Regions from separate parts of the Homo sapiens genome. Here region 2 is linked to region 1. Evidence: fine-mapped expression QTL. A gene starts in region 1. The other region holds a variant in brackets. All regions are shown on one strand. Distances are between the middles of the regions.

Region 1 (5,372 bases):
TCTTTACTAAAAATACAAAAATTAACTGGGTGTGGTGGCGCGTGCCTGTAATCCCAGCTACTCGGGAGGCTGAGGCAAGAGAATGGCTTGAAACCAGGAGTCGGAGGTTGCAGTGAGCTGAGATCGCCACTGCAGTCCAGTCTGGGGACAGAGCAAGACTCTGTTTAAAAAAAAAAAAAAAAAAAAAAAAAAAGCGTGGCTTTGGCCTAAGACTGGAAGTACCCAGATTCCAGACTTAAGAAATCCTCATTAAAATGCTTTCAGTTGTTTTTCATGAAAGAAATGACCAGTGATACTTTGTAAACCATTTATCTGGCCATGAGTGATCAGGTGAGAAAACCGTTAGCGGACACCAGAATGATCTGGAGAGGATTAGGGACGGCTCTTGTGGGCACATTTTTACTCTAGTTTCATGGGTGGAGATGGCATCTGCCGTGGTCTGCAGCATGCAAGTAAAGACACCAGGTGGCACCATTTATTAGCTTTCAATCCCATGGAGAGGTCCCATCATGTAACTACCAAGAGGTTGAAGGAACCAACTACCTCTTGCATATTGTAGCTAATGGTTCTTGCCTTCTTCTTCCAGACTTGGGAAATAAATTTGAAAATCGTATTTTCTGTTTCATAATATTTGCAGTGCATGGTTGAAGGGAAGAAGGCCACGTGCTATTGCCAGTTGGTCTCCAGGAGGTGACATCCATCATCTCCATGTCAACTTGTGAGCTTTACAAATCTAATTTTCAGTACGTGGCTACAGTATACACAAGAAAATATGTGCTTTGCCACTTGGCTCTAAAGGCTCACCGTTGTACACAAGCAATGAGTTTAGGGGTTCTTCCCTCTTGTTATCACATGTCATCTCCACAGGGTTTCAAAAGATCTGGATAGGGTGAGACAGACACACCAGTGTAGTACTCCCTTGGGTCCCTTGTCTTTGGCTTAGGCTTTTTCATAAGGTATAATAATTTGTTAGAGGTTCTTCCCTCTTGCAGACACATGTCATCTCCACAGGGATTCAAAAGATCTGGATAGGGTGAGACGGACACACCAGTGTACTATTCCCTTGGGACCCAAGTCTCTGGCTTAGGCTTTTTCATAAGGTGATTTCTTGTGGTAGTAGTCAAGTGGAGAATACTCAGGAAATACTATTTCATGTAACATTTCCGTGTATTCCCTCTGCCTCCCCCGACATGAGTTAGAAAACTACCCCTCGATCTAGTATCAGCAAGCTCGACAGTGACCTCAGCAAGGAACAGCCCTAGATAAAAGGATTCATAAGTAAATGGAATGAGGAAAAGATCTGGAGCAACAAAGTCCTGGTCAGCTTTAGGTGAGGAAGCACAATGGGATGTTGGAGGCTAAAGAAGCCATGAAACCTAAAGTATTATAACATAGCATATTCACTTCTCTTTCCCCCGCACGCCCAAAGCTCTGTTCAAGGCCACCCTTTCCCCTTTCATGATGACCAGGTTGCCCAGTGCAAAAATACTGTTCTTAGCTATTAAATTGCATTACTCAGAATAATCCTTTCCACGTTGAGTCTACGTGCCGGACTGGCTGCGAGCAGAAACTACTTCAGTCGCTTTAAATCTCAACACTTGTGGTCGCTGGGAGCAGAGCTTTTAGGCTGTAGCTCAGTCTTGTAATTCTGAGCTAGGAGTTTCAGCTACGGTCCCTCGGGCCTATCAGATGACAACCTTAACACCCTGGAGGCGTGGTTATCGTCTTGGGGCTCTGGGAAGTGCAGTTCCATGGGGGACCAGGCCTGATAATACCATAAAAGGCTTGGTTCTCTCAATTCTGAAGCCATGTTCTGTTGACCTTCCTCTAAAAGCGGTACCCGCAATTGTGCGGATTCCGTGGTTCCCTAGTCCCAAGCCGTCTGCTTCCTGGGCCCTTTCATTGGCTCCGCCCCCGTAAACCTTGCTCGTCCACTCTGGAAGCGCTCTCCTGACTACAGGCCGCGCCCCTCGCGTCGGCTCCGCCCACCCAGCCCGCGGCTTGGCCCAGGCGGTAGTTCGCGTTTTGAGCCGATCGTGCCACCATAGCTCCTGCTGCTGCCTCTACCGCTGCGGCTACCGCGGCGGAGCTGAAATTGCCGAACGCGATGCCCGAGGGCGCTGTGAGCGGGGTGGCCTTAGCTCGCCGAGGCTGGTGAGGCTGGGCCCGAACGGGGGCGCTGACGAGTAGCAGGGGCCTCAGAGGCGGGTGAAAGATAAAGGTCCAGAGCCGCTGTGGAGGGCGGAGAGCGAGCTCTGGAGGATAGGGAGTGGGGGAGGGAGGCTCCCGTGGCAGAACGAGTTGTGGGCTACGGCGAGCCCCGCCGCGTCCCCGCCGGCGCTAGCGCAGGTGTCCAGGCCTGCGGAAATCCCTGGTGGTCTCGGCGGCCTCCTCCCTTGGACACTACAGTTGCCATGGGAACAGTTGGGCATTAACGGGAACCAGATCGTCCACGAGACCAACTGGGGCCCATCCCATCCATCTCGCCAGTTAAACGCCTCTGGCGGGCGTGGGCCTGGCATTTCTTCGTGGCTTAGGATTTTCCCCCCCTTTTTCGTGAGCCTTTCCTTCCGACGTTGTAAGAAACTGTGCAGGGCTAGAAGGTGGGGATGAGGGAAATGGTGAGAGCAATACCCAGAGGTAAAAGCTGCAGACTTCGCTAGGCAGAAGGTAAGACACTGTGATACTAAGGTGGCTTCTGCCATCTCAGGTCAGTGAGAGGGCATACTGGGAAGCCCTCTGGAGTGGGAAGACAGTGCCGCTGTTGAGACAAGACCCAGGACTGGGCCGGGGACTGTCCCAAAGGGTTTCTCGTCATAATGGCTGTGGAAGGGTCAACCATTACCAGCCGGATCAAGAATCTGTTGAGATCTCCATCCATCAAACTGCGCAGGAGTAAGGCAGGAAACCGACGAGAGGACCTCAGCTCCAAGGTGAGTCCTGTTGGGATCCACCTCTTTCCAAACCCACCCTCTCCTGCTCCATGTTCCTCGTTAACCTTCCTGTTTCTTGGGAAAGATAACTAGAAGCCCTTGTTGACTCTAAAGGATCACATATGATCTCTGCAGGCAATGATTTGGTTTTAGGTTGAAGGAAAAAGAGCAGCAGGGGTGGGCATGCTGAGATTCATCCATGAGAAAAGGTGAATAGTAGGAAGACCACCTGGGTTCAATTGTGGCCTCACTATACACTAAGCATGTGCTTGGGAAGCCAGTTGATATGCTATGACTCAGTTTCCCTTCTTGGGAGAGGACAGTAGGAACACATACCTTGTGAAGGGCTAAGCTGTGACTAATGTAGCTGCAGGTGTTAACGTAACAGCTGGGGTTATGTAAGACTGTAGTGGCAGAAAGAAATATGCTAAAACACCTAGTCAGAGTTACTGGCTTGGTAATTGCTCTTGCCTACGGTGAAAACAAATTTTTTTTGTCTCTTCAAGAGGCTAACTGGAGCCTTTTGGCTTCTTAGGAATAACATGCAAGAAGCCAGATATCTGTCAGCAAAACAGTTCTGGATGGCCCTTGAGCATTGCTTATCTCATTCACTATATGCCAAGAGCCACATCCCACTCAGCTGCAGATGATCCTCAGAGGCAAAGTTCCTTTCCATCGCTTCACTTGTCTGTGTTTTGGTCCTTATGCTTTTTCAACTAAATAAACCCCACAACTTTGGGAATCCAGAAGTAGTCGACATTTATTTAATCCCTTGAGGGAATCCAGGGCTTTACTCCCACAGGATCAGATCAGATTTTGTGTCTTATTAGTAGCCTGTAAACCCAATAGGGTTGTGAGGTACAAGGTTGTTACAGGGAGAGGCATTTGAGACCACAGCATTGTATTGCTTTGCCTGTATCTCTTCAGTGATGAGTAAATCCCATGAGGAATGATTTAGAATGCCACTGTACAAATGGCAGGGTTCTGGGAGGACTTAGTTCAGCCCTGTGTTCCTTAGCAGAACTTTGAGTAGATTTGGTAAGAAGGTGAAGAGCTTTCCTGTATATTTCAGCAGAAGTTGTGTTGAATCACAGTTTGCTACAAGGTTTTGTGATGGTGGACATTGTGACCCTTCCAAGGTCTCTTATTCATCATTGTTTCTATTCTCCTGAGGCAGGCAAAGAAGCCTGAAATGTAGAAATTGCCTTAGATATGACTCTGTTCATTCTTAATACTGCAAGTGCTCTTATTCTTGGCTGGTAGCTTGGCAGTGACCAGCACTGTTAGAGCAATCTTCTCCAATCTTTGGCCTCTTTTTCTGGCCAGGAATGATATATGTAGTAGAAACATATAATGAGAGTTTAGCCTTCATTGTTAATTCTTACTGTAATTTTGGTCTGGAATCCAGAAAGTATAGTTGCCATTCTTTAAGACTTCCAATATCATCCATTATTAATGCATTTAACAAGTGTTTATTGAGTGCCTATGAAGTGTGCAATCAGTGATGGGTAAAACATTACCCTTGCCATCAAAGAGCTTATGGCTAGTCAGACATGTAAACAATTAAAACACGGTGTGGTAAGTGCTGCTGTAGAAGTATGTGTACGTTGTTAATGGAAGCACAGGGGAGGCGACCTAAGTCAGTTCAGAGGAATTAGGAAAGGCTTCACAGGCCAGGCATGGTGGCTCACCCCTGTAATCCCAGCACTTTGGGAGGCCAAGGCGGATGGATCACTAGGTCAGGAGTTCGAAACCAGCCTGGTCAAGATGGTGAAACCTCATCTCTACTAAAAATACAAAAATTAGCCGGGCGTGGTGGTGCATGTCTGTAATCCCAGCTACTCGGGAGGCTGAGGCAGGAGACTCGCCTGAACCCGGGAGGCTGAGGTTGCAGTGAGCTCAGATCCTGCCAGTGCACTCTAGCCTGGGTAACAGAGCAAGACTCCGTCTCAAAAAAAAAAAAAAAAGGAAAGGCTTCACAGAGGAAGGGATGCTTGAACTGTGAGTCCTAAGGCAGGTGGAGAAGAGCTCTCCAGGAAAACAGTGGAAAAGGGGCATCCCTGGCAAGACCATTTACCATTCCCTGTTTAAAATAGGAATTCAGTGCTTCAGACTGCTTTAGATGGCTTTGTCTGTCCTGAAGCTGTGTATGAAAGAAATACTTAGCTGAAGTTGAATGACCCTTGAATGGTCTGGCAGCAAAATGACTGGTGCATATCTTTAGCACCCAAGAGGAGTAGCTGTCTTTGTGCGCCCAGGACCCTAGAGATGCCAGACTCCCCACACTCCTTAGTAAAAGGTCTCTACCTGAGATTATTCTAAAAGCCTGCCTTGTGATTACTCTAGTGTATTAAGCTCTGTGAGTTGCTCTAACATGTGGTGGCTGTGAGTAATCATGATAACAGGAAATTTGTGATTCATGGATAGCTAATTCTCAAA
Region 2 (5,372 bases), 29 kb after region 1:
CTCTGCTCCTACAAGTGGGAAACCTCCAACCATAGTTTCTTCAGGCTTCTGGAGAAAGCTTGGAACCCCTCCTGCTTCTGGCTCACTCTGTTCCATGCTGATAGGCACAGGAATGTGAAAATGAGTAGCGCTACTGCTGTACCTTTCTTACTCTACCATTAACTTGTTAATGCCTAGTTCATTCCCCAATGTAATTTTCATAGCAACTTTTATAGTTTTTATACTAGATACATGATTTGCTTAGTTTTATCACCTCATCAAAAAAGCTTCCTTTATCAGGCTGGGCCCGGTGGCTCACGCCTATAATCCCAGTACCTTGGGAGGCCAAGGTGGGCGGATCACTTGAGGTCAGGAGTTGGAGACCAGCCTGGCCAACATGTTGAAACCCTGTCTCTACTAAAAACATAAAAAAATTTGCTGGGTGTGATGGCGGGTGCTGGTAGTCCCAGCTGCTTGGGAGGCTGAAGCATGAGAATCACTTGAACCCAGGAGGTGGAGGTTGCAGTGAGTGCAGATTTCGCCACTGCACTCCAGCCTGGGCGACAAAGAGAGACTCTGTCTTAAAAAAAAACAAGCCACCACCAAAAAAAGCTACCTTTATCAATCAAGTACAGTCATGTGTCACTTAATGATGGGGATATGTTCTGAGAAATGTGTCATTTGGCAGTTTCGTTGTTGAGTGAACATTACAGAGTATACTTACACAAACCCTAGATGGTATAGCCTACTACATACCTAGGCTACATGGTGTAGCCGGTTGCGCCTGGGCTACAAACCTGCACAGCAGGTTACTGTACTGAATACTGTACATAATCCTAAGACAATGGTATTTGTATATTTAAACATAGAAAAAGTATGGTTAAAATATCATATAAAATATATTTTAAAAAGGCACACCTGTATAAGGCACTTACCATGAATGGAGTTTCCAGGACTGGAAGTTGTTCTGGGTGAGTCAGTGAGTGAGTGGTGAGTGAGTGTGAGTGCCAGAAACATTACTGTACACTTTACAAACACTGTACACTTGGCCATACTAAATTTATTTTAAAAACATACATTCAATAATAGATTAACCTAACTTACTGTAACTTTCTTACATTTTATAAACTTTTTTTTTTAACTTCTTGACTCTTGTAGTAACACTTAGCTTAAAACACAAACACAGTACAGCTATACAAAAATATCTTTCTTTTATCTTTTTTCCGAGATGGAGTCTCCCTCTGTCACCCAGGCTGGAATGCAGTGGCACGATCTTAGCTCACTGCAACCTCTGCCTCCTGGGTTCAAGTGATTCTCCTGCCTCAGCCTCCTGAGTAGTTGGGATTACAGGCTCCTGCCACCACGCCTGGCTAATTTTTGTATTTTTAGTAGAGATGGGGTTTCGCCATGTTGGCCAGGCTGGTCTTGAACTAATGACCTCAAGTGATCAGCCCTCCTTGGCCTCCCAAAGTGCTGGCATTACAGGCATGAGCTACTGTGCCTGACCCAAAAGTATTTTCTTTTTATCTTCTATAAGCTTTAAATGTTGTTTTTAACTTTTTAAACTTTTTTGTTAAAAACAAAGACACAAACACACACATTAGCCTAGCGCATAGAACTACATAGGGTCAGGATCATCAAGATGTCACTAAGTGACAGGAATATTTTAGCTCCATTATAATCTTACGGGACTACTGTCATACATGCCCTTCGCTGTTGACCAAAATGTTATTATGTGACGTATGACTGTACTTATTCTATGCCAGGTACTTTTTAAGCACTTTATATGAATTATTTAATACTCTGAGCAACTATTATCACCCTCATATTTTAGAGGAGGAAATTGAGATCCAAAGAGGTCAAGCAGGCCAAGTGCAGTGGCTCACGCCTATAATCCTAGCACTTTGGGAGGGCAAGGTGGGCGGATCACCTGAGGTCAGGAGTTCAAGACCAGCCTGGCCAACATGGTGAAATCTTGTCTCTAGCAAAATACAAAAATTAGCCTGGCGTGATGGCGGGTGCTGGTAGTCCCAGTTACTCGGGAGGCTGAGCTGGGAGAATCGCTTGAACCTGGGAGACGGTGGTTGCAGTGAGCCGAGATCGTGCCACTGCACTCCAGCCTGAGCGGCTGAGCAAGACTCCATCTCAAAAAAAAAAAAAAAAAAAAAAGGTTAAGCAGGCAGGGTGCAGTGGCTTTGGGAAGCCAAGGTGGGAGGATTGCTTGAGACCAAGAATTTGAAACCAGCCTGGGCAACATAGTGAGAACCCTGTCTCTACCAAAAAGTAAAAATAAAAAAAATTAGCTGGGTATGGTGGCATGTGCCTGTAGTCCTAGCAACTGGGGAGGCTGAGGCAGGAGGATTGCTTGAGCCCAGGAGGTGAAGGCTGCAGTGAACTATGATCGTGCCATTGCACTCCAGCTTGGGTGACACAGTGAAACCCTGCCTCTTAAAAAAACCAAAAGGGTTAAGGAGTTTGCTTGAGGTAACATAGCTAGTGTGTGTAATGGGGTTCTAACCCAAGTAGTATGACTGTAGAGCTCTGATTGTTAAAATGGCACAGAGTAGGGGGAGACCACACTGTTTTTTTTTGAGACAGAGTTTCATTCTTCTTGCCCAGGCTGGAGTGCAATGGCACGATCTCAGCTCACCGCAACCTCCGCCTCCTGGGTTCAAGCAATTCTCCTGCCTCAGCCTCCAGAGTAGCTGGGATTACAGGCATGCGCCATCATGCCCAGCTAATTTTGTATTTTTAGTAGAGATGGGGTTTCTCCATGTTGGTCAGGCTGGTCTCAAACTCCCGACCTTAGGTGATCTGCCCACATTGGCCTCCCAAAGTGCTGGGATTACAGGTGTGAGCCACTGTGCCCGGCCACTTTCTGCTTATTTTTAACAAATTGCTTTTCCTCTAAGCTGCCTACCTGCCCTTTGAATGAGAAGAGCCCCATTTATGGGCAGCTCAGTCTGTGCAAGGGAGACTTCTGCCCCTGGGTTTGGGGTCAGTGTCTCTCCCAAGTGGTCCTCTGGTGTTTAATGGCTGCAGTAAGGGTGCTGTGGGAGCCACACGGGCTCTGCCTGGCAAAGGCTGGGCTAGGCTCCATTTTCCCCTAGAGAAGCAAGCTGATGGAAAGACCTCTCTACTGGATAAGTTTGTGCAGCCTGCCTCAGGGGAATTCCACTTGTTCTTGCCTCTGCCTG[G/C]GAAAGCCAGGTTCCCTCTTGTTGGAGGTGGGGCTGGGGCTGGATGTAGCACAGGCAAAAAAGGCCTTGGGGTGCTGCTTGGTGCATGCTGAGACCTGTGTCCCTGCCCTGGAGAGTGTGGAGTCCTGCCCGCTTTCTTCCTCACACACCCCTGGACTCCAGGCCTGGCCTTTAAGGGCATGTGCTTATGCATGTTTATGAGCAGGTCTCAGCCCAGTGCATGTGCCTGGGAGTCATGATCCTTCCAGATGGTGTACAGGCTTTCCTGATGGAACCTCTAGTAGGTTTCCTAAGCGTGTATGCTTGGCTTAGGCCATCCCTGGGCAGTGCCCCTAATCTGTTCCCTGACCTTTTGATTTCTTAGAACTTGAAGTTGTCTGTGCAAATGGCTTCTTTTCTGGGTGTTTGAGTTTTGCTGTGTTCTAGAACTCCCTGATGTGCTGCTGTGATGTTGGGGGCCACCAGATTCTGTGTGAGCACAAGCAGGTTCTTCACCTCCCTCCTTGTCTCCCTGCTTTTCTTATCTGATCATCCTTACACTGCCCCCAGCCCCCACGCTCTTGTTCCTCCTGTGCCTGTTGCTTTGGGAGCCAGCTCAGGTATCCTAGAAACAAGGAGAGAAACAAAACTCAGAAAATTCTCTGAGGCCCGGAGGCGAATATCAAACCAAAACAAAGTTTTCTGAAAGGAAATGGAACAGCACAGGAAAGGAGGGTGGGCAGTGTGTCAGGCAGAGGTGGGTAGGAGCTCCAGGCTGAGCATGGAGCCTGTCCTAGTGGCTCCTACATCCCTTGGCCGTTGTTTCCCCACGGGAAGCCCCCCTACTAGAGGATGCCAGACAGCCCCTTTGAGAGACTTAATTGAGTTGAACACCCTTAATTGAGTTGGGCCTTTTCCTCAGCCAGCTGGTGGAAGGTTGATGGGCCTTCAAGCCCAGCACAGCCCCTGTGCCCCTGTGCCCCTGTGCCCAGTCCTGAGAATGGGTTTCTCCTGGCTCCTATGCCAGAATGGCCTGGGTGAGTGCCCTGCGCACAGCTGCTCCTCTCCCGCTGGGATGGGAAGTGTCCCAGCAAGGTGACGGGGTGTATCTGGCAGCTAAGAAGAGACCTCTTGGTTGATTTAAGTGGGGAGGAGAAGAGGGAACCCCTGCTCTCCTGAGGAGGCCCTCCATTTCCTCAGCCCATGTTAAAATTGATTCTGAGATCCTCAGCTTTGAAGCATTGCACTGGGTGTGACAGAATTCTCCTCCTGAACTGTGTTCTCGTGACACCTGAGCTGAAGGAACACAGAGCTACCTTCTTACTTGCTGTAGGGTATTCGCCAGGGACAGTAGAGAGACCAGGTGGGCCTGAGAGAAGAAAAGGTTGGGACTTGGTGCCCAGGATCATGCAGTGTGTTAGCAGACAGGCCTGTGACCTCAGTGTTCTGCTCTTTCCACCTCTACACTGCCCTTGAGCATCAAGGAGTCCTAAATGCCTGAGGTACAGGAGAACCATGGACCTCTCCCCAGGGCCCTCATTCACACTCTGCTACCCAGGAGGTTCCTTGGCAGCCAGGGCTTTGAGATCTTGCCCCTAGTGACTTGAAGACATATTCACTTGTTTACAAATAATTACTGAGGGCCTATCGTCTAGGCCCTGGGAAATTAACAGTAAGTAAAACAGACCAAAAATACCATCCTCACAGAACTGGCAGTCTGGTGTGTGAAGATGGATCCCCACCCCCAGTGTAAGTTATAAGCGTGATTACAAATTGATGTGTGCTTTGGAAACAGTAGAAGCGGTAGCAGTGACGGAGGTAGGGTTGTAATGATAAATAGGGCTGGAGGGCGACATTTGAGCGAGGCCAGAAGCCCCTTTGGCATGCTTCTGTGAGTCATTCTCAGATTTTACCTGGTCTGAAAGAAAACAATTCAAAGGCCCAGGGTCCCTGGTTGACCTTGTGTGTCCTGCTCCCTGTGTCTGTGCTGCCCCATGCATAGCTCATCCCATCTGGGGGATGGAGAGTGGTAGGAGGTGGATCCTATGGGAATCCTGGGCTCTTTGTGGTAGCAGCAGGCCTGGACCTGTGTAGGGAAGGGGGATGTTGAAGGCTTGGCCCTTCCTGGGCAGTGGGCCCAGCACCTGGCACTGGTACTCCACAGCGTGACTCCCCCAGGCTGAGGCCTTACGTCCTTCTGTGAGAGTGAGCAGCCGC

Direction of the effects. Alleles are on the strand shown, and positions count from the first base shown. SD is a standard deviation of normalised expression in the study named.
For the expression in sun-exposed skin of the gene that starts at base 2,028 in region 1, allele G in region 2 goes with a lower level than allele C (moderate effect, 0.44 SD a copy in GTEx).

Evidence for each region. PIP is the estimated chance that this variant, and not a neighbour inherited with it, causes the effect.
Region 2: its variant is the best candidate, but not a certain one, in a credible set for the expression of MAPKBP1 in sun-exposed skin (GTEx, PIP 0.88).

The regions. Positions count from the first base shown.
Region 1 is chr15:41,772,457-41,777,828 of GRCh38, forward strand. MAPKBP1 (mitogen-activated protein kinase binding protein 1) reads left to right here and starts at 2,028. Exons shown (of 31, transcript NM_014994.3): 1 at 2,028-2,154; 2 at 2,711-2,933. The coding sequence starts at 2,820. RefSeq lists an enhancer at 1,475-1,524.
Region 2 is chr15:41,801,288-41,806,659 of GRCh38, forward strand. All of the region lies in intron 3 of MAPKBP1 (mitogen-activated protein kinase binding protein 1), which reads left to right. Among named protein-coding and RNA genes, the nearest start is that of JMJD7, 24 kb to the right of the region's middle. The variant G/C (reference allele first, on the strand shown) is at 3,177.